Regions from separate parts of the Homo sapiens genome. Here regions 1, 2, 4 and 5 are each linked to region 3. The links come from fine-mapping of genetic effects on gene expression. A gene starts in region 3. Each other region holds a variant in brackets. All regions are shown on one strand. Distances are between the middles of the regions.

Evidence for each region. PIP is the estimated chance that this variant, and not a neighbour inherited with it, causes the effect.
Region 1: its variant is the best candidate, but not a certain one, in a credible set for the expression of CD177 in subcutaneous fat (FUSION, PIP 0.81).
Region 2: its variant is the best candidate, but not a certain one, in a credible set for the expression of CD177 in whole blood (INTERVAL, PIP 0.78).
Region 4: its variant is the best candidate, but not a certain one, in a credible set for the expression of CD177 in whole blood (GTEx, PIP 0.86).
Region 5: its variant is the best candidate, but not a certain one, in a credible set for the expression of CD177 in whole blood (INTERVAL, PIP 0.68).

The regions. Positions count from the first base shown.
Region 1 is chr19:43,323,039-43,327,455 of GRCh38, reverse strand. No RefSeq gene overlaps it. Among named protein-coding and RNA genes, the nearest start is that of LINC03078, 6.3 kb to the left of the region's middle. The variant A/G (reference allele first, on the strand shown) is at 1,692.
Region 2 is chr19:43,283,169-43,287,585 of GRCh38, reverse strand. It overlaps the pseudogene CEACAMP11. Among named protein-coding and RNA genes, the nearest start is that of PSG9, 16 kb to the right of the region's middle. The variant A/TA (reference allele first, on the strand shown) is at 2,309.
Region 3 is chr19:43,351,477-43,355,893 of GRCh38, reverse strand. It overlaps CD177 (CD177 molecule), which reads right to left and starts at 2,208. Exons shown (of 9, transcript NM_020406.4): 1 at 2,128-2,208; 2 at 1,901-2,041; 3 at 1,502-1,687; 4 at 111-233. The coding sequence starts at 2,179.
Region 4 is chr19:43,303,431-43,307,847 of GRCh38, reverse strand. It overlaps the pseudogene CEACAMP4. Among named protein-coding and RNA genes, the nearest start is that of LINC03078, 26 kb to the left of the region's middle. The variant A/G (reference allele first, on the strand shown) is at 2,479.
Region 5 is chr19:43,135,358-43,139,774 of GRCh38, reverse strand. No RefSeq gene overlaps it. Among named protein-coding and RNA genes, the nearest start is that of PSG11-AS1, 17 kb to the left of the region's middle. The variant A/G (reference allele first, on the strand shown) is at 2,352.

The DNA of each region.
Region 1 (4,417 bases), 28 kb after region 3:
CTTACAGTTTCGTTCCGTGACTAGCCCTTCCCCACCTGCCTAGCAATTTACTCTTAAAAAGGTGGCTGGAGCTAAAGGCATAGTCAAGGTTAATGCTCCTTTTTCTTTATCCCAAATCAGATAGCGTTTAGGCTCTTTTTCATCAAGTATAAAAATCCAGCCCAGTTCATGGCTCGTTTGACAGCAACCCTGAGACGCTTTATAGCCCTAGACCCTAAAAGGTCAAAAGGCCATCTTATTCTCAATATACATTTTATTACCCAATCTGCTCCCGACATTAAATAAAACTCCAGAAATTGGAATCTGGCCCTCAAACCCCACAACAGGACTTAATTAACCTCACCTTCAAGGTGTGCAATAACAGAAAAAAGTTGCAATTCCTTGCCTCCACTGTGAGACAAACCCCAGCCACATCTCCAGCACACAAGAACTTCCAAACGCCTGAACCATAGCAACCAGGCGTTCCTCCAGAACCTCCTCCCCCAGGCGCTTGCTACACGTGCCGGAAATCTGGCCACTGGGCCAAGGAATGCCCGCAGCCTGGGATTCCTCCTAAGCCGCGTCCCATCTGTGTGGGACCCCACTGAAAATCGGACTGTTCAACTCACCTGGCAGCCACTCCCAGAGCCCAAGGAACTCTGGGCCCAAGGCTCTCTGACTGACTCCTTCTTGGCTTACCGGCTGAAGACTGACGCTGCCTGATCACCTCAGAAGCCCCGTAGACCATCACGGACGCCGAGCTTTAGGTAACTCTCACGGTGGAGGGTAAGTCCATCCCCTTCTTAATCAATACGGAGGCTACCCACTCCACATTACCTTCTTTTCAAGGGCCTGTTTCCCTTGCCTCCATAACTGTTGTGGGTATTGACAGCCAGGCTTCTAAACCTCTTAAAACTCCCCAACTCTGGCGCCAACTTAGACACTACTCTTTTAAGCACTCCTTTTTAGTTATCCCCACCTGCCCAGTTCCCTTATTAGGCTGAGGCACTTTAAGTAAATTATCTGCTTCCCTGACTATTCCTGGACTACAGCTATATCTCATTGCCGCCCTTCTTCCCAATCCAAAGCCTCCTTTGCGTCCTCCTCTTGTATCCCCCCACCTTAACCCACAAGTATAAGACACCTCTACTCCCTCCTTGGCGACTGATCATGCACCCCTTACCATCTCATTAAAACCTAATCACCCTTACCCCACTCAACGCCAATATCCCATCCCACAGCACGCTTTAAAAGGATTAAAGCCTGTTATCACTCGCCTGCTACAGCATGGCCTTTTAAAGCCTATAAACTCTCCTTACAATTCCCCCATTTTACCTGTCCTAAAACCAGACAAGACTTACAAGTTAGTTCAGGATCTGTGCCTTATCAACCAAATTGTTTTGCCTATCCCCCTTGTGGTGCCCAACCCGAACACTCTTTTGTCCTCAATACCTTCCTCCACAACTCACTATTCCGTGCTTGATCGTAAAGATGCTTTTTTCACTGTTCCCCTGCACCCCTCGTCCCCGCCTCTCTTTGCTTTCACTTAGACTGACCCTGACACCCATCAGGCTCAGCAAATTACCTGGGCTGTCCTGCCGCAAGGCTTCACAGACAGCCCCCATTACCTCAGTCAAGCCCAAATTTCATCCTCATCTGTTACCTATCTCGGTATAATTCTCACAAAAACACACGTGCTTTCCCTGCTGATC[A/G]TGTCTGATTAATCTCCCAAACCTCAATCCCTTACAAAACAACAACTCCTTTCCTTCCTAGGCATGGTTAGTGTGGTCAGAATTCTTACACAAGAGCCAGGACCGCACCCTGTAGCCTTTCTGTCCAAACAACTTGACCTTACTGTTTTAGCCTAGCCCTCATGTCTGTGTGCAGCGGCTGCCGCTGCTTTAATACTTTTAGAGGCCCTGAAAATCACAAACTATGCTCAACTCACTCTCTACATTTCTCAACTTCCAAAATCTATTTTCTTCCTCATACCTGACGCATACACTTTCTGCTCCCCGGCTCCTTCAGCTGTACTCACTCTTTGTTAAGTCCCACAATTACCACTGTTCCTGGCCCGGACTTCAATCTGGCCTCCCACATTATTCCTGATACCACACCTGACCCCCATGACTGTATCTCTCTGATCCACCTGCTATTCACCCCATTTCCCTGTATTTCCTTCTTTCCTATTCCTCACCCTGATCACGCTTGATTTATTGATGGCAGTTCCACCAGGCCTAATCGCCACATACCAGCAAATGCAGGCTATGCTATAGTACAAGCCACTAGCCTGCCTCTCAGAACCTCTCATTTCCTTTCCATCGTGGAAATCTATCCTCAAGAAAATAACTTCTCAGTGTTCCATCTGCTATTCTACTACTCCTCAGGGATTATTCAGGCCCCCTCCCTTCCCTACACATCAAGCTCGAGAATTTGCCCCCACCCAGGACTGGCAAATTAGCTTTACTCAACATGCCCGAGTCAGGAAACTAAAATACCTCTTAGTCTAAATAGACACTTTCACTGAATAAGTAAAGGCCTTTCCTACAGGGTCTGAGAAGGCCACCACAGTCATTTCTTCCCTTCTGTCAGACATAATTCCTCAGTTTAGCCTTCCCACCTCTATACAGTCTGATAGCAGACCAGCCTTTATTAGTCAAATCAGCCAATTAGTTTTTCAGGCTCTTAGTATTCAGTGAAACCTTTATATCCCTTACGGTCCTCCGTCTTCAAGAAAAGTAGAACGGACTAAAGGTCTTTTAAAAACACACCTCACCAAGCTCAGCCACCAACTTAAAAAGGACTGGACAATACTTTTACCACTTTCACTTCTCAGAATTCAGGCCTGTCCTCAGAATGCTACAAGGTACAGCCCATTTAAGCTCCTGTATAGATGCTCCTTTTTATTAGGCCCCAGTCTCATTCCAGACACTGGACCAACTTAGACTGTGCCCCCAAGAAAACTTGTCATCCCTACTATTTTCTGTCTAGTCATATTCCTATTCTCCATTCTCAACTACTCACACATGCCCTGCTCTTGTTCACACTGCCAGTTTACACTGTTTCTCCAAGCCATCACAGCTGATATCTCCTCGTGCTATCCCCAAACTGCCACTCTTAACTCTTGAAGTAAATAAATAATCTTTGCTGGCAGGACTATGCTGAATCTCCTTAGGCACTCTCTAATCAGATGTCCTAGGTCCTCCCAATTCTTAGACCTTTTATACCTGTTTTTCTCCTTCTTATTCCATTTAGTTTTTCAATTCACACAAAACTGTATCCAGGCCATCACCAATCATACTATATGACAAATGTTTCTTCTAACAACCCCACAATATCACCCCTTACCACAAGATCTCCTTTCAGCTTAATCTCTCCCACTCTAGGTTCCCACCCGCCCCTAATCCCGCTTGAAGCAGCCCTGAGAAACATCGCCCATTCTCTCTCCATACCACCCCCCAAAAATTTTCGCCACCCCAACACTTCAACACTATTTTGTTTTATTTTTCTTATTAATATAAGAAGGCAGGAATGTCAGTCCTCTGAGCCCAAGCCAAGCCATCGCATCCCCTGTGACTTGCACGTATACGCCCAGATGGCCTGAAGTTACTGAAGAATCACAAAAGAAGTGAAAAGGCCCTGCCCCGCCTTAACTGATGACATTCCACCATTGTGATTTGTTCCTGCCCCACCTTAACTGAGTGATTAACCCTGTGAATTTCCTTCTCCTGGCTCAGAAGCTCCCCCACTGAGCACCTTGTGACCCCCGCCCCTGCCCACCAGAGAACAACCCCCTTTGACTGTAATTTTCCATTACCTTCCCAAATCCTATAAAATGGCCCCATCCCTATCTCCCTTTGCTGACTCTCTTTTCGGACTCAGCCCACCTGCACCCAGGTGAAATAAACAACCATGTTGCTCACACAAAGCCTGTTTGGTGGTCTCTTCACACGGACACGTATGAAAAGAAAGACATGAGATTTGAGAGAAACCAGGGAAAGAATGATATGTTTTGGATTTATATTCCCACTCAAATCTCATGTCAAGTTGTAATCTCCAAAGTTGTAGGTGGAGCCTGGTTGAAGGTGATTGGATTATGGGGATGGTTTCTCATGGTTTAACACCATTCCTCTTGGTGCTTTCCTAGTGACAGTGAGTTCTCAGGTGATCTGGTTAAGAGTGTGTAACCCTTGCTGTCTTCCTCCTGCTCTCACCTGTGAGATGCCTTGTTCTGCCTTGGCCTTCCACAATGATTGTAAGTTTCCCGAGGCCTCCTCAAAAGCTGAGCAAATGTGAGAGTCATGCCAAACCATGAGCCAATTCAACCTCTTTTCTTTATAAATTACCCAGTCTCAGGTATTTCTCAGTAGCAATGTGAGAACAAACAAATACAGCATTATTTTCAGGAGAGAAAAAACAGGAAGTAAGCAATTCTAAC
Region 2 (4,417 bases), 68 kb after region 3:
GTTCCCTGTAGTTCAGGAGTCCAACTCGGTCTGAATTTCCCTCACTTCATAAGCCAGGCACCCCTGAGAAACAGCTTTTTCCCATGGTCTCCTCTGTGGTAACACATTAGGGTCCCTCGCTGTCAAGATTCTAGAGATGGAAGAAACCTGGACAGCACACATCCCAGCTTCACCCTTCCTCTCTTTCTCCCTCCCTGCCAGGAATCAGGGCTCAGGGCTCAGGAGGAAAGGCACAGCCCAGTGAGGCCAGAGTTGGTGAGATGTCTGAAAGGTGTTCAGTGAAAAAAGTGCATCCCTCTTTCATTCTACCTGATGAGCCCTGTCCTGCACAGCTTCCTCCACCCTGAGGACTTCCCCAGACACCCTCTCTAACAAAGCTGACTGCCCCGTTTCCTTTCTGCTCACACTTAGGCCTGTCCTGCCTTCTGGGAAATGTAAAATGCACCAAAATCAGCCAAAGCAGCCACCCCTGCCAGGATCCATAATAAGGCAATGTCCCTGGGTCACCAAGAGAATGAGCTTCCACTGTGTCGCAGTCCAGGGCTCTTTCCCTCTGAGAGGCTGACTCATGAAACAGGCCACCAGAAAGAGATCAGTGACTCCTCCATCCATTCTTATAATCACCTGACAGGTTCTTGCCCTCTGCGCAGGCAAAGCCAATTTATTGTGAAGGTGATGTGTAGTAAAAAATGGTTTTGCTTAGCCCAAGGCTGCCAAACAGGAGGATAGAAGTTTATTATGACTCAAATCAGCTTCCCCAGTGGCTCAGAGGTTAGAGTTTTTCAAAAACTTTGAGGGGCAAAGTTCTAAGGAATAAGTACTGTTGACTGGCTAAAGATGAAATGATGCCGGTAGGGGAAATGGTCTGTATTTGTTGAATCTGCCTCTGAGTGGGGGGCCACATGACTGGTTGAGCCATTGGTCATGAGTCTAGATGAGGTCAGCTGGTTGCCGGAATGCAAAAATCTGAGAAACATCTCCAAAGACAAATCTCAGATTCTACAATAGTGTTGCTATCTATAGGAGCAACTAGGAAAGTCACAAATCTTGTGACCTCTGGACACATGACTCCTGAGCAGTAAGGGATTATAGAAACTATGCCTGCATTTTAGCAGAATTTGGGCTCCTGCATAATTCATGGTCTTTTCTTAGATTTACCACGGTAGTCCCCGACAAGGAGGGAGCTAATTTTAGGGAGGGACTATTATCATCCTTGCGTCAAAGTTAAACTATAAATTCCTTCCATGCTTACCCTGGCCTATGCCCAAGAATCAGAGAGGACACCCAGCCTGAGGCTAGAGGTGAGATGGGGTCAGCCAAGCTAGCTTCCTCTCACCATCATATGCTTTGCAAAGGTGGTTTCACTTTCTACATAGACTCACCAGGTGGTCAGACGCTGAAGGACAGACCTGCAGTTTCCAAAGCCCATGGGCTCATTTCACCCATTTCACTCATGACTCCATCCTCAACCTGCTGTGGGGCTCATATCCTCCAGTCATGCCCTAGAGACTTCGAATTTCCGCCAGGCATGTAAGTAGCTTAAAAATTTTCACTCAGTTCTAACAACAAGTAAAAAGCTGAACAAACTGAAAAAACAACAACTCATTTAGATTTGTCAGAGAAGCAAGGTCTCAGTGCTAACTGGCCCACATATTGAAGAGACCCACAGGCAAATACAGAGCAGCGCACCGTACCTGAGCAGAAACACAGGCACAGAAACCTCAGCGGGAACCAGTGCTGGGGTCAGAAAACCTCAACTCTAATTGAGGAAATTCTGGAGGCTCAGTGTGGACACAGCGCAGAGATAAACACACCAGTGGATGAATTAGCCTTGGGAGTAGGGGGACAGTTTTATGACTCTTAGCTCCTGGAGCTCTACCAGGTTCTCACAGTCAATATCCAAAAAGAATCCCTGCATCCTTCTTGTAGGAGAGAAGGGAAAAAAACACTTGGAAAGTTGTCAGTGAATTATATTCTTCTTGGTAAGACCTACATTTAAGAGGAACTATTTTACTGCAGCCTAATTAGCTGGGGTTTGATGGGAGCTTAACTGGCCAGGGGGAGGGGAAATATCCAACTCCAGCCTCCTCAAGTCATCATATCCCACCTAATGGAAAGAAAAACCTGAGAGGCACTTGTGACATTCACAGCCCAGGACACAGATCTCATCCAGAACCACAGAACCCTTCCCTCCCCTCACTCACCACCATGTCACTGAATGCCTGCTCACTCAAGTCCCTTTTACCCAGTACATCATGTGTGGTTTTCAAAAAAATACAAGACAGACTATGGCAAAAAAAAAAAAAAA[A/TA]ATAATGCAGTTTGAAAAACAGAGCAAGGATCAGAACCAGACACAGATGTGGTAGGGATGTTGAAATTATCAGACTGAAAATTTAAAACAACTCTGGTTAAGGATTATGATGGAAAAAGGAGACACCTTTCAGGAATAGATGGGTGATTTAAACAGAGAGATGGCTATTCTAAGAAAGAAGCAAAAGAAATGCTAGAGATTAAAAACACTTTAAGCGAAATAAAGAATGCCCTGCATGGGCTTACTGGTAGGCTGCCCACAGCTGAGGAAAGAATCTCTAGCTTAAGTGTGTGTCAATAGGAACTTCCAAAACTGAAACAGCAAAGTTTAACAAGAGTGAGAAAAAGTGGAACAACATATTCAGCTTCATATTCAATATTTGGTATTGACAATAGCATATTTTATATTCTGAAGTTGTATTTTATATTTTGTAGCCTACAAAGGCTGTAACATACACATAATGGGAATACTGGTGGTTCCTAGGACCAGGTGGAGCTGGCCAGGTGGGTGCTGTTTGATTTACTGCCTGTTTCATGCACACCTGTGTACTCATAATAACAACAGTGTCATAAGGTGGGGTCCTTCGGGTGGGGAGATGCATGAGCCACTGCTGCCTCACTTAGACTCTGCCCAATTTAAACAAAGTTAATCAAACTCTAATTATATGACCCTGCTCAATTCACAGTTCACCAGTATTGCTGCTTGATTCACAGTTCAGAAGTCTGTGCATCTCCCACACAGAGCAGGTGGCCCCATGGTCTCTGAGCCCTCAGATCATCATGCATCCATCTGTCTTTTGACACACAGAACTGCTGTGGGCTTTTAAGGACTTGGATTGGCTGAGAGGTGGGAGATGTCAACTCTGATTGGAAAATGCTCGTGGAGAAATCAATGGTGCCACACAGGGGAATCTTCTCTGTTATCTGCACAGTGAATCTGCCCAAGCCCTATGTCACCAGCAACCCCGCGGAGGATGAGGAGGCTGTGGTCTTAACCTGTGAACCTGAGACTCATGGCACAATCTACATGTGGTGGGTAAATAGTCATAGACTCACACTCAGTCCCAGGCTAAAGATGTCCAATGATAACAGGGTCCTTGCTCTACTCAGTGTCACAAGGAGTGACACAGGACTCTATGAATGTCAAAGGAAGAATGTAGTGAGTACCAGCCACAGTGACCCAGTCACCTGGATGTTCTCTGTGAGTATCCTCTTTTCCTTCATGGACAAGGCTGCCAGCCCAAATCCACATAACACGAGGCCAGGCCTCTCAGTCCCTCTCAGGTCCAAGTATGAAGACACTTACCCCTGGACCCCCAAGCTGGCCATGACTTTCTGTCCCAGGCAAACCTGGGTAGGCCCAGGAAGGGAGGGGCTTCTCCGGTCTTAGGGGACTCTGGTTCCATAGCTTGCGATGGGAGAACACGTGAATGTCTTAGACTCCTCCAGTTCAGTGAACACAGAAGAAATTTGGCTGGGACTTCAGGGTTGTGACTTGGCAAAAAGGAACATTGTGTCCCTTTCACAGACCAGGAGCTTCCCATTCCCTCTGATAACATTACCTGTGGCTTTATTCTCTTTGCTCCAGATGGCCCAGATGAACCCACAACTTATTCTTCAGACACCTATTACTATGCAGGGTCAAACCTCAACCTCTCCTGCCTCATGGGCTCTAACCCATCAGCAGAGTATTCTTGGCTGCTGAATGGGAATAACCAGCAAACAGGACAAGAGCTCTTTATCCCCCAAGTCACTACAGAGAATAGTGGGGACTATCTGTGTTATGTCCATAACCCAGTCACTAATGGCAAAAACTTCGCAACCAAGAAAATCACAGTCCCTGGTAAGTGGATCGCTGGAGCATTGGCAATATGCTTTCAGGTGAAGCCTATCTGGCTTTCCAAGAAAGAGCCAGGAAAACATTTTTATTCTCAGCCTGTGTCCCATGCACAAAAGTAAATCCCAAATTTTTCTCCTGAACACTCCCAATTCATATCTACAGATTCTCTTCCCTTTGTTTTCCAGATTTCTGGTGGATGACCTTGGGTCCAGCCTGAGAAATGTAGGGAAATGGCTTTATCAGCCCCAAGCACTATGCAGTATAAGGGCC
Region 3 (4,417 bases):
CTCTGGGTCTCATGCCGTGCCTCAGCTCACCTCACTCCCCAAAGCCTAAGATCTCAGTCCCCAGACCTTCCAGTTCAGTCCCCACAGGGACCCCGATGTCCCAGGCTTACCTCCCCTGAGCCTGAGGAGGCCATCATAACAGTGTGTGGTCCCCTTGGGGCAGATCTCTTCTGTTGTCCCCTCCAGACAGCCTTCCATAGACAAGCAGACTGGGCACCTCAAGGATCCTGGGTCTAGGAAAGTGACAGACAGAGTGAGGGGGCACTGAGAGGGCACTGGATTTGATCAGATACCTTCTCTGCACCCCACTTTTGCTGGCCTCAAGAGTCAACCTGCTCAGCCTTCCCAAAGGGGCCTTCTGCAGCTCCCATCATGGGATCTGGATGTGGGAAAATAAAGAAGTGTAATCCATAAAAGAGGAAGGGAGAATGAACAGGAGGTCTGGGTAGAGGCACCCAGGGCTGGGTACAGAAAGTGGTCTTGGCTGGGTGTGGTGACTCACACCTGTAATCCCAGCACTTTGGGAGGCTGAGGCAGGTGGATCACGAGGTCAGGAGTTCAAGACCAGCCTGGGCAACATAGTGAAACCCTGTCTCTACTAAAAATACAAAAATTAGCCGGGCGTGGTGGCAGGCTCCTCTAGTCCCTGCTACGTGGGAGGCTGACGCAGGAGAATCGCTTGAACCCGGGAGTCGGAGGTTGCAGTGAGCCGAGATTGCGCCACTGCACTCCAGCCTGGTCGACACAGCGAGACGCTTTCTCAGAAAAAAAAAAAAAAAAAAAAAAAAAGAAAAGAAAAGGGGGGGTGTCTTGGGTGGCAAGTGGGGGTGGGGGGTGGGCAGGGTGGAGGAGGGGCCTGCTGAGGCCAAATGTAGACTCAGACATGGTCAAGTCTGAACCTTTCAACAAAGTCTGGCCTTCCGAGGGGAGACACAGAAGCAGACTCATTGGTCAAGGGAATGAGGGGGTGCCCTGGAACGAGCCAGTGCCTTCACCTGCAAGCGCTACTAAACCTCCAAGAACAGGAGACTTCTGTGTTCACAAGCTGTTCCAATAAAAGAAGCGCAAAATATCTCCCTAGACTCTTTATAACACCAGACAAGGAAAGTGGAAAGTTACAGTTCAGTCTCCCTTAGGAAGAGGAAATAGCAAAAACCCTGCAGGAGAACTTCTTGAACCAAACGCAACAGAATAAAAAAAGAATGCAGGATAACCCAGTTAATGGTGATTTCATATCAGAAATCCGTCCTGTTTGCTCTTAGAAGAGGAGGGGTGCGGGGATTCCCGGGTGGCAGGTCGGTGGGAGGGATCGGGAGTGAGTGGGGAGGGATGGAAAGGGAGCGGGGCGGGGCGATGGTCAGGGAGCAGTCAGGGGAGGGATGGAGCCAGCGAGGGTCGGGATAGCGAGCGAGGGTGGGAGGGACTCCGTAACAGCCCCTCTGTGCTCAGCGGATCCCCTTCTAGCAGCCCCTCCCTCTCCTCCCGACCCTCCCGCAGGCACCTGCTGGGGGCTGTGGGGCCCAAAGCGGGAGGGAGTTAACGAGGTTGTTGCAGAAGTCCTCCTGGCGGCACACGAAGGTGTAGGAGATCAGGGAGAGGCCGGGGCCCATCCGGTGCTCAGTGACGCGGGGCTCCTGGTCCTTGGCCTCCGTGCAGCCCTTGGAGAGCACCAGGCTCACTTGGGGTCCTGGACCGAAAGAGGGAGGCAAGCGAGGATGGAGGTCAGGCCTCCAGGGTCCTGGAGGGAGACGCTGCTACACGGCGTAGGCTGAGAGGCTGGAAAGGGGATCACCGGGACCCTAGGAGTCGATCCCCCGGAGGGGTGGCTCCCGGGTCCCTGCACAGGGATCAAGGGACTGAGGGGACAGGGCGGGGTCTCTGCACGCCAGGGCCTTCTCACCGCTCTCAATGAGCATCAACGTGTCCTGGCACCCCAAGCCGCTGTCGCAGCTGGTGTTCTTAGGGGTCCATTGCCGGGGCAGGTCGGACACCTTCCACACATGCTGAACTGTCCCAAACTGGCAGAGCAGCGCCTGCACTCCTGGAGTGGCAAGAGCAAATCCATCTCAGCAGGGTTCCCTTGCCCGGCCTCCAGGGAATCTCCTCCAGGCTGGGCTCATCACTCACCTGGCAGTGGGAGGATGAACCCCAGGAGGGCCAGCAGTAATACCGCGCTCATGACCCGTCTGTGGCTGGTAATCTCTTTCTGCTTTTTCAGCAGGAAACAAGTCCTTTATACCAGCCCTTAAGCAGCCAGCCCAGAAAAGGGTGGGGAGGGGAGGGCCTTGCAAAATGGAGGCTTGGGCCCCACCCCAAGTCTCAATGGCCGCAGTGGCCTATCAGGGACCCCCTTTCTTCCTCAGACCTTCGGGTCCAGGCATCCAGCCCCTCCTCCCTCAGATGGAGGGTCCAGGACCCCCAGCCCCTCAGCCCCTCCTCCTTCAGACCCAGGAGTCCAGACCCCCAGCCCCTCCGCCCTCAGACCCAGGAGTCCAGGCCCCCAGTCCCTCCTCCCTCAGACCCAGGAGTCCAGGCCCCCAGTGCCTCCTCCCTCAGACCCAGGAGTCCAGCCCCCCAGCCCCTCCTCCCTCAGACCCAGGAGTCCAGGCCCCAGGCCTCCCTCTCTCAGACCCAGGAGTCCAGGCCCCGAGGCCCTCCTCCCTCCGACCCAGGAGTCCAGACCCCCAGGCCCTCCTCCCTCAGACCCAGGAGTCCAGGCCCCCAGGCCCTCCATAGTTAGAAACTGTGGCATCTTGACCCGAGGTTCCCCCGGTCCAGACTCCCAGCCCTCTTTCCTCCTGAGCCCAGCTATGTGGATCACCACCCCCACCCTCTTTCTCCAGTAGTTTGGGAAGGCAGTTTCCTCATTTCTCATGGGCTCCCTGGCCACCTCTGTACCCCAGATGGGGAAATGGCCCAACTACCTGTGAGGACGTTGTGCAGTGGGCATCAGCTTGTCCCCATGTCTTCCGGTCCTAGTTTCTACCCTCCACTGTCTTCCCACTTCTCTGTTCTTTCTCTTTCCTTCTTATATTGCTTTCTTTTGATTCTTCTTTTCATGCTTTTCTCTCATGCTTTCTCTTCTATTCTCTACCCTCACAGTACAACATAGGACTCAAGTCCCCAGTTTCCTACCACCAGGAAAGGCTTGGCCAGAGGTGGAGTAGAGACTGAATATCTATGAAAGAATTAGGATATATCTGAAAAATGCAACATTTATTTGCTGGAAGCCGATGGGAGAGCAGTGTTGTGCTGAAAAACCAAGTTTTCTGAAAAACAATACCCACAAATCCTGCCTCGTAGTGTTGGCCTATTTCTCTGGTGTAAATACTCATAGCATGTCTGATTTTAAGCTACCTACAGTTTGCCAACCAGGCTGATGAAATCCCTAGCTATTTAACCATGGGCTTGTCCAGGGCTGTACAAATCAGCTGTAACACACTGGGGTGGCGGGGAGGAAGACAGGAAGGAACCTGGGGTATCTGTCAGTGACTGCAGAGGGACGTTGTGGGTGTCTGTGACGGAGAGAGGAGAAGCAGAAGAGGGAAGGCGAGAGCAGGAATAGCAGAGAAAGAGAAATGAATGTGACTTGCAATTATATGTTTATTTTTGACATCTCTATAAATTTTATCTTTATTTGTCTTTGCAAGTTTATTGCAAGTTTAATATTTGCCACACAGACAGGGAAGTGTTTGTCTGATCTCCTGCTATGTCTCCACCACCTACATGGCATACAGTACATGCCCAGTAATTTTTTTTTTTTTTTAGAAACAGAGTCTTGCTCTCACCTATGCTGGAGTACAGTGGTGCAGTTGTAGCTCACTGCAGGTCACTACAGCCTCCATCTCCTGGACTCAAGCAACTCTCCCACCTCAGCCTCCCGAGTAACTGGGACTACAGGTGCACACCACCATGTCTGGTTAATTTTTGTATTTTCAATAGAGACAGGGTTTCACTATGTTGTTCAGGCTGGTCTCAAACTCCTGACCTGCGGTGTTTTCATTTTGAAAAATTTCAGGCTGGGAGCGGTGACTCATACCAGTCATCCTAGCACTTTGGGAAGCCAAGGCGGGTGGATCTATTGAAGTCAGGAGATTGAAACCAACCTGGACAACACGGTGAAACCCCATCTCTACTTAAAAAAAAAATACAAAAATTAGCCCGGTGTAGTGGCAGCCACCTGTAGTCCCAGCTACTCCGGAGACTGAGACAGGAGAATCGCTTGAACCCAAGAGGCAGAGGTTGCAGTGAGCCGAGATCGCACCACTGCACTCCAGCCTGGGCAACAGAGTAAGACTCCATCTCAAAAAAAAAGACGGAAAAATTTCAAACCGGCAGAAAAGTTGCAAGGATAGTACAGTGAACACAAGTATCCCCTTCACTGGATTCACCCACTCTTCACATTTTATTGTATCTG
Region 4 (4,417 bases), 48 kb after region 3:
GCAGAGGAGAACCCAGGCTCTGTGGAGCTGCAACCTAGAATGAGACTGAATGTGAAGTTATCTCACCAGGGAAGGTCAGGCCTCATGAACAGGAGGGGAAGGAGCTCCCACCTTTCCTGCTCCAGACAGAATGTGCCCCCTCAAAATTGTTAAAGCCCTCATCCTTAATGTGATGAAATTTGGAGGTGGCATTTTTGGGAGATAATTACAGTAAGACTAAGTCATAAAAGTGGAGGCTTCATGATAGAGTTAATGACCTTATAAATAGAAGAAAACATGGGAGAAGGGTCTCTACCTCTTTCTGTCTCTCCACCCACCTTCAAGCCTGCACCATGTGCAGATACAGCAAGAGAGCAGGAATCTGCAAGGAAGCCCTCACCAGGACTGAATCAGCTGGAACCTTGAACTTGGACTTCCCAGGCTCCAGAACTATGAGAAATAGATTTCTAAATTTTAAGTCACCCAGACTAAGGTGTTTGTTACAGCAGCTGAAGCCCATGAAAACATCATCTGACACACTGTTTTGAATAAAACTCTTCCATTTCTCCATCAAATCACCTGACAGTGCCTGTCCCCAGCAGCACCAGAGACCCCAAGAAAAGAGCTCCAGCAGGGGCTCAACCAGCATGGGTCCCATGGGGCAGCCTCAATGTCAGGCACCAGATGGCAGGTGAGGCTATAGTGATACAACCACAATGTGAAAGTACAAATTTTTTTTTTGCTATTTACAGACTCTGAGGAGCACATGGCACACCTAGAGATAATAGACACAGAGGTCAAGGAGTCCAGGCAGAGAGGAAAGTAGGGACCTGTAGGCCAATGGCTTTAGTGGGTCCAAGGCGTTAGCTGAGGTTTCCAGCAGAAAGCTTTAATGGGTGAGTTTAAAGCAAGCAAACACTGGGGCCAGGTGACCACGCTGTGACTGAGAGGTGGTCACTTTAAATTTCAGGGCAAATTTCACAACCGTCAGTTTAAAGGAAGCAGCTGGGTAGAGGGGGAGCCCAGCACACTAAGCAGGAGAGATGCCTCTAAGATTTTATCTCTGGCCACCAACTGCAGCCATTTGGCCAGGTACAGTATTGGGAACTGTCACGGTGACCAAGCCCTGCCTCTGATATAAAGCAGGTAAACTTACACCTTAATAAATGAATGCCAAGGCAACATGAAATTACGAGCACTGGTGACATCCACGGACACCAACAGTGTGTGGTGTTGAGCCCTAAGGTCAGGGTCCTGCATTCTTGGTCCCCTGGGAGTGAGAAACAAAGATGACTTGTCCCTGCTCCCTCTCTGCTCCTCTGTCATTGATCTTCCTGCCCTGCACCTCCCTCTTCTGCTTCCAAACCTCTGCCCAGTGCTCAGCCCCACCCAGACATCACTGTCCCCAGGGCATACACAGTGCAGCCCACTGCACACAAACACAAACTCACAGGTGACAGAAATCTGTGTTTGGGACATCTGATTGTGATAGAGGGAGGATAGTGAACTTACAGTCACAGAGACTGAGACTCATGGGGCTGGAATGTGATGGATCTGTGACATAGGTGAATAATCTGCTGTGAAATGTGCAGATTCACATGGAATAAAACATGCAGCCTTGCCTGGGGCTGCTGTCATCCAAATTTCCCCCATGTTCACCAGAGGATGGCAGAATCCCAGCCACAAGACTCCCCAGGGGCTGCTGACCCAGCCAAAAGGGCATCTGCAAGGGCAGCGATGGTCCACATGATGCCATATTAGGCACTTTACCCTTGTGACCTCTTTCCATCCTTATCAACTTTTTCTGTGACTGCTCCCTACATTCCCACCCCACTCCCTCTGTACGGTTCTCTAGGTTATCCCAGGCTGATCCCAGTGCTGACACAGAACAGCAGCTGCCTGAGTGCCCACAGTATTCCTAGGAATCAGCCAGGCACCCTATGACCTGCCCATTGCACGCTAGGAGGTGCAGAGGGTGTTTGAAGGTCACGCACAGGCACCATCCATGATGTGGCCACCTGCTGGAGGTTTTTCTACTCACCCACAATCTGCCCCCTGCTGTCTCTCGTGAAGCTGGGAGGGAAGACAGGGCTGTCCTTTGTGCATGGGGAAGGTGAAGTGGGGGGTATGAGCTCCTTTTGTTCTCAGAACATGGCCCACCCCCACACACCCTCTCAGGTGTGAGCAAAGTCCCTTCACGCAGGCTCTCCAGCCACTGCCTGTTCTTCTTCTACACAGAGGAGCTTGATCTGCCTCAATCCCTCAAGAGGAACCCCAAGGGATGTATAGCAAGAAGGGCTAAGCCCATCCTGGCTGCAGAGTAAGTCTGCAGAAATCTCTCCAGCTCTGAGCCCCTGTTCTTTCCCAGTCTCTCTCTCTGGGTCTTGAAGAGCTGTGTTCTGTGGGGACCCTGGGCATCACCCCACTCCCTTTTGCACCAGCCGTGGGGAAGGTGGGGTGACCACAGGACAGTCAGCTGGGCCAAGGACAGAGGACACC[A/G]AAGATGGTCAGGAAGAAAATGGATGGGCCTCACCCCAGCTCAGCCACCAGAACCCAGGGACCAAGAGAGTGGCTGAGACCTGTCCCTGGTGAACACTGGGCCCATAGGCCCCACTGACCAATCAGCACAGGCCTTTCCTACCAGGAGGCATAAGAGATTGATCCTGCACACCTCCACGAAGGAAAATACCCTCTTGGACAACCGGGTCATCGAATGTCTAACCATGGAAGCTGTAGCAAAGTTCAACATAATGAAAGAGAGGGAGGGTCCTTCTCACCAGCCAGCACTCAGCCCACCCAAAGCAAGGTGAGGGTGCATCACTGTGACAGGGTCATGGTGCAGCCCAGCCTCCTGCTTTGAAGAGAAAAGCCAGATGGGAATGGGAGAGGGCAGGGGGAGCGACTGTGCACCCTGACCTGGAGCAATGGAAATGGGAGGACACTGAGGGCCCAGGGCTGTGCTTACCAAACCTAAAGGATGTCTGTGTGTGTGTGTGTGTGTGTGTGTGTGTGTGTGTGTGTCTGCACATAGTGTGTGTAGAGGTTGGGTGAGAGAATCACTGCTGAAGGAGGCAGAGGACTCAGCAATTCCCAGGGGCCTGAAACACAGACAGAAGAGAAACAGAAAGGAGGGACAAGGAAGCAGGACTGAGAGGGGAGGGCACAGAGAGGTGTCCTGGGTACAGACCCCACCCATGAGCCTGAGAAGTGCTCCTGCCCCAGGAAGAGGCTCAGCATAGAAGGTGGAAGGACAGCCCAGCTGACAGCCCTGCTCAGAAACTTTCCGGATCCCAGGCTCATCTCCACAGAGGAGGACAAGCAGGCAGCACAGACCATGGTGCCCCCCTATCAGTCCCTTTCTCCAGATGGCACATCCTCTGGCAGAAGCTCATGTTCACAGGTGAGGAGAGAACTTCCTTGAAGAGGAAATGAGAAGGCACAGGGACTGGCTTGGGTCTCCTGGGGAAAATGGGGCTCCTGGGGAAAGAGGACTTAGAGCTTCTACTGCTGCCTTAACAGAAAAGAGGACACCAGAAGGGACAGGATTAAAACAGGAAAATCACATTGAACTGAAATTTATGGTAAGAAGCAAACAAATCTCAAGTGTTCTCTATTCCCGGTTAATCATCACTGGCCACTACATTTTGAAAAATGATCATAATAACTATATCAGATAACACTTCATATAAAAACATAGTGAGGGTATAAGGCATTGTCATCAGCCACCAACTTCAGAAATTGGGAAATAAATCACAGGCCTTGGAGGGCTCTGGGAATGCTCACAAACTCATTCACAAGAGTCCACAGCATGTCCCAGGCACTGCGGTACAACCAAGATCATACAAGTCCCTGCCCTCATGAACCTGATGCTGTTATGGGGAGGGGAGCGAGACACGCAAGGATATCTAGAATGTGAGGTCAGGTGTTGACAAGAGCCCTGGAGAAAACTGAGCAGGGAAAAGTGAGAAAGGGAAGACCCAGAATCTCTAGTGGAGGTGTCAAGAAAGGGCTCTTTCAAGGATGCCCTGATGTGAGCAGGATATGAGGTCAGTGGAAAGGGAACCATGCAGACCCCTGGGGAAGAGGATTCCACACAGGGAAATGCCAAGTTCAGAGGTGTTGAAGGAATGGGGGTCATGCTGCTGACCTTGACCCAGCAGGACACACACACACACACACACACACACACACACACACACACACACACACACACACACATTCTCTCTCTCTCCAAGGCTCATGGGTGAAGAGAACCTCTAAGGACAAAGGGCCCCAACTTTCCATCCCAATACATAGGTTTTGATATTGACTGATGCTCCCTCCCCATCCTAGCCTCACTTTTAACCTTCTGGAACCCACCCACCACTGCCAGAGTCACTACTGAAGCCATGCCATTCAATGCCACAGAGGAGGAGGAGGAGGAGTTTTTTCTACTTGC
Region 5 (4,417 bases), 220 kb after region 3:
GCATGTGTATTCATTTCAGAAAAATAATTGCATAAGTGGTTAATGACACCAGGAAACCTAATTTTTGCAGACTATATATGTATTACCTCAAAATAAGAATATTATTGCATTACATTCATTTTAATAATATTTAGTAACAAACCCATATGTATCTTATAAAAAGTTATAGTCTATTTTGTTCCAATTCAATAAAAATCATTGATATTAATTAAGCAACTTCTATATACAAGGTGAGTAGTTTTCAACTGTGAGTCTGTTTTGTCTTAAGGAAGTTAATATCCCTTAATCCAAACTTTCAAAATAGTATTCAAGGAACAGGAATGTTATTCTTAAGTTGAAAATACTTTGCCCATACACATAATCTAGTTGGATCCATAAAGAGATTGTGGTATTTTGATACCTAATAATTTCTTTATTAAAAAAGAATTTATCCCCTAATAAAATTAAAAATAACTCTCTATGAAGATAGAGAACTAGACCTGCTGATGTTAAAAATGAAAAACTCAGTTGGATATTGCAGGTTTTCATGAGCAGCAGAGTGTCAGAGCTTTGGACATGAGTTGTTTCATTTTGCATTTCATAGCCCTGTGTCCAGAAACTTCATTTTGAAGTTTAGACAAAGTGGGGAGCAGAGGGCAGTATGGGCCAGTCCTGTGAATTTTGCAGTTCTGCATAGGTAGATTATTAGATAGATACACAATAGATAGATCATAGATGGATAATTATGATGATGATGAAGATAGATACATACATATATACATACATACATAGATGCATGGATGGACAGATTTGTTTTTTGTAAAAATTAAAATTATAAGAAACACCCACAAGACTCTACAATAATAATTAGAACTAAATCTCTCAGAGATGTATGTCTTGACATTCTGGGGCCAGAAATGACATTTTTCTTCTTTTTAAAATACCTTTCCTAGAAAGAGTTGCATGATGAATACTTCTTGAGGATACTGTTGAAAAAAATCTCCACATAGAAGTTTGAACTTTTCATGTAAAAAAAAGTGCATGTGTGAATCCAGAAAGCACATTTGTGTTACTCAGTATCACCACTTATATCAGTTGGGATGGTTCAATTTCAAGTTACATAATACCTGAGTCAGATTGGCTGAATCAACATGGACATGACTTTCTCAAGTTAAGGAAAGGTCCAAGGTAGGGCTGGTGCCCTGCTTTGTCTTGTCCCATCCATACCCTTTATTCCAAATCTCTCTCTTCTACCCTACCCTAACCCATAGCCAGCAAACTGTAATATGCCCTCAAATGTTTCTTAAAATATTCTTCTCAACTTCTGTCCTTAATTAAAACTAAGTTGTCCTCTGAGGACCCTGACTCTGTTTCTATCTGTCATCGCTTAGGGCTTGGTTGGGTCACAGACATGACTGCTGCTTCAGGACCATCTCCCTTCCTTTCACCTTGAAAAGTCCTGTCTCTTGACAAGTCATGCTATTCTGCTCTATTGGCATTTACCCATCTCTCTTTGCTGTCTTCTATCAATCTGCTGGTCACACCCCAGTATGTATTGACAATTGAAGCTCTGGGGTTCGCATGATACTTTCCACCTCACTCTTAGCAGTACATTGGCTTGGTTCAGCATCCATGTTGATGCCCTCCCTCCACTCCAGTTGTTCTTCCCTGAACTTTGTCATCACCACTTTTGGCACCCCCTTTAAAATCCCAATGTACCAATTCTCTCCAACCCCTAGACCATAATAAGCTCTAGGGAGCCAGGAACTATATGTTCCTTACATTCACCCACTCCACACCCCACACTCAGCCTCTGCCACATAGGACATGCTCAACAGATATTTGTTGAACAAATTAATGCCAAAATCAATTTTCCTGTCTTTTACAAATTCATTATTAAATGAAAACTTTAGACTTATTCTCAAGTTTCAGACAGAAAGTCTCTTTTTGGAGGTTGAGAAGGTATTTATTGTTAATTAAGGCATAATTTACATTAATAAAAATGCATAACCGTATTCGTCAAGGTTCTCTAGAGTGACAGAAGTAGTAGGATAGATGTATATACAAAGGGGAGTTTGTTAAGGAGCACTGACTCACGTGATCACAAGGTGAGGTCCCACAATAGGCCATCTGCAAGCTGAGGATCCAGGAAGTCAGTCCAAGTCCCAAAGCCTCAAAAGTAAGGAAGCCGACAGTGCAGCCTTCAGTCTGTGTTCAAAGGTCCGAGTCCCAGAGTTGAAGAACTTGGAGTCTGATTTTCGAGGGCAGGAAGCATCCAGCTGGGAGAAAGATGTAGGCCAGAAGACAAAACCAGTCTAGTCCTTTCCCGTTCCTCTGCCTGCTTTTATCCTACCACGCTGGCAGCTGATTAG[A/G]TGGTGCACACCCAAATTGAGGAAGGGGCTGCCTCTCCCAGTCTACTGACTCAAATATTAATCTTCTTTGACAGTACCCTCATAGACACACCCAGGAGCAATACTTATATCATTTCAATCCAATCAAGTTGACACTCAATATTAACCATCACAATAACTTTTTGTGGTTTTTTAAAATTCTATTTTGAGTTGTAGGATCCTTTATATATTCTGATGAGTTTACACAAATATATTCACCTGTGAAAACATCAGCCTAATAAAGATAAAGAATATTTCCATCACTCCAGAAAATTTCCTCATATCACCAAACCCCAAAACTTCAGGCAACTGCTGTTCTTATTACCATGGCTTTCATGTTGCCTCTACTAGAACTTTATATAAATGGAATCATGCAACATATTCTATTTGGTATCTGGCCTATTTAACAACATACTATTTCTGAGATTTATATATGTTTCCATTGCAGGTAACAATAGTTATTCCTTTTTTTATCTGTTAGTAGTATGTCGTTATATGAATATGTAACAGTAAGTTTATCCATTTATCCTTTGGTAAGCATTTGGGTTCTGCTCCATTTGAAGTTATCATGAATAATGCTACAATGAATATCTGTGTACAGGTCTTTGTGTGGATGAATATATGTTTTCATAACTTTTTGGTATATATCTATAAATGGAATTGTTGAGCCATAGGGTAGTTATTAAAAGTAGTTGCACCATTTTATATTCTCACCTCAATACATGAGCATTCCAATTGCTCCACATCCTCATCAAAACTTAGTATTGTCAGTCGTTTTAACTGTAGCCATTCTAATGGGTAGGAGTATCTCATGGTTTCACTTTTTATTTCCTTGATAACTAATAATATCGAGCAACTTTTCCTGTGATTGCTAGCTATTTGCATTTCCTTTTTTGGGAGATTTTTGTCCAAATAATTTGCTCATTTTCTATTTTTTTTTTTTTTGCGTGTGTTTTTGTTTTATTTTTGTCTTTTTATGTTGAGTTTTAGAATTCCTTTACATATTCTGAACACAAATACTTGGTTTCAAAGTCAGTGAATTGCCTTTTCATCTATCTTGAAGAGCAGATGTATTTTTGATGAAGCACAATTTATGATTTTTTAATGTTTAGTGCCAGGTATTTGTAGAAGGAGTCTTTGTCTACCTTTGCTTTATTGTAAAAGCTTCAAAATTTTAGATTTTATGTTCAGGTCAAATCTCAGTTGATCTTAATTTAATGCTTGTGCAGAGTATGGAGTAAGGGATCAAAGTTCATTTTTATCCATATAGGTATCCAGTTTTTCCAATTCCATGTGTTGAAAAAGACTATTCTTTTCCCATTGACTTGCATTATCAACTTTGTTTAAAATGAATGGACTGCGTAAGTGGCAGGAAGTTTTGTTTTGTTTTTTTTTTAAATATAATTGAGCCTTTAAAAAGGCCAATCTTTGTTAAAAGTTAAACAAAAGTTAAAAGTGATGATGACAAAGTCCTAACTGGCTGTCCTTGTGGCTTCAAAGCAGATGATGGAACAGTGGAGCGAGTTTAGCATGGAAGGGTGAAGGAAGCTTTAGGGACATTCATCATTACATCTCAGGGGAAAGCTGAGACTTTCTTTATACCCGGAGATATATGTCAGCCAATTCTGTTCAGGTTGCATAGCCTCTGATGCCAGTTTCTGAGCGTTACCTATTACATCTGTCAGAGACATTTGAACAAGAGCAACTCCATCTTGAATAAAGGCTGGGTAAAATGAGGCTGAGACCTACTGGGCTGCATTCCCAGACACTTAAGGCATTCTAAGTCACAGGATGAGACAGGAGGTCGGCACAAGATACAGGTCATGAAGACCTTGCTGATAAAACAGGTTGCACAGAAGCCAGTGGAACTCCACCAAAACCAAGAAGACAACGGGAGTGACCTCTAGTCATCCTCACTACTACCTTCCCACCAGAGCCATGACAGTTTACAAATGCCATGGCAACATCAGGAAGTTACCATATATGGACTAAAAGGGGGAGGTATGAATAATCCACCCCTTGTTTAGCATATCGTCAAGAAATAACCA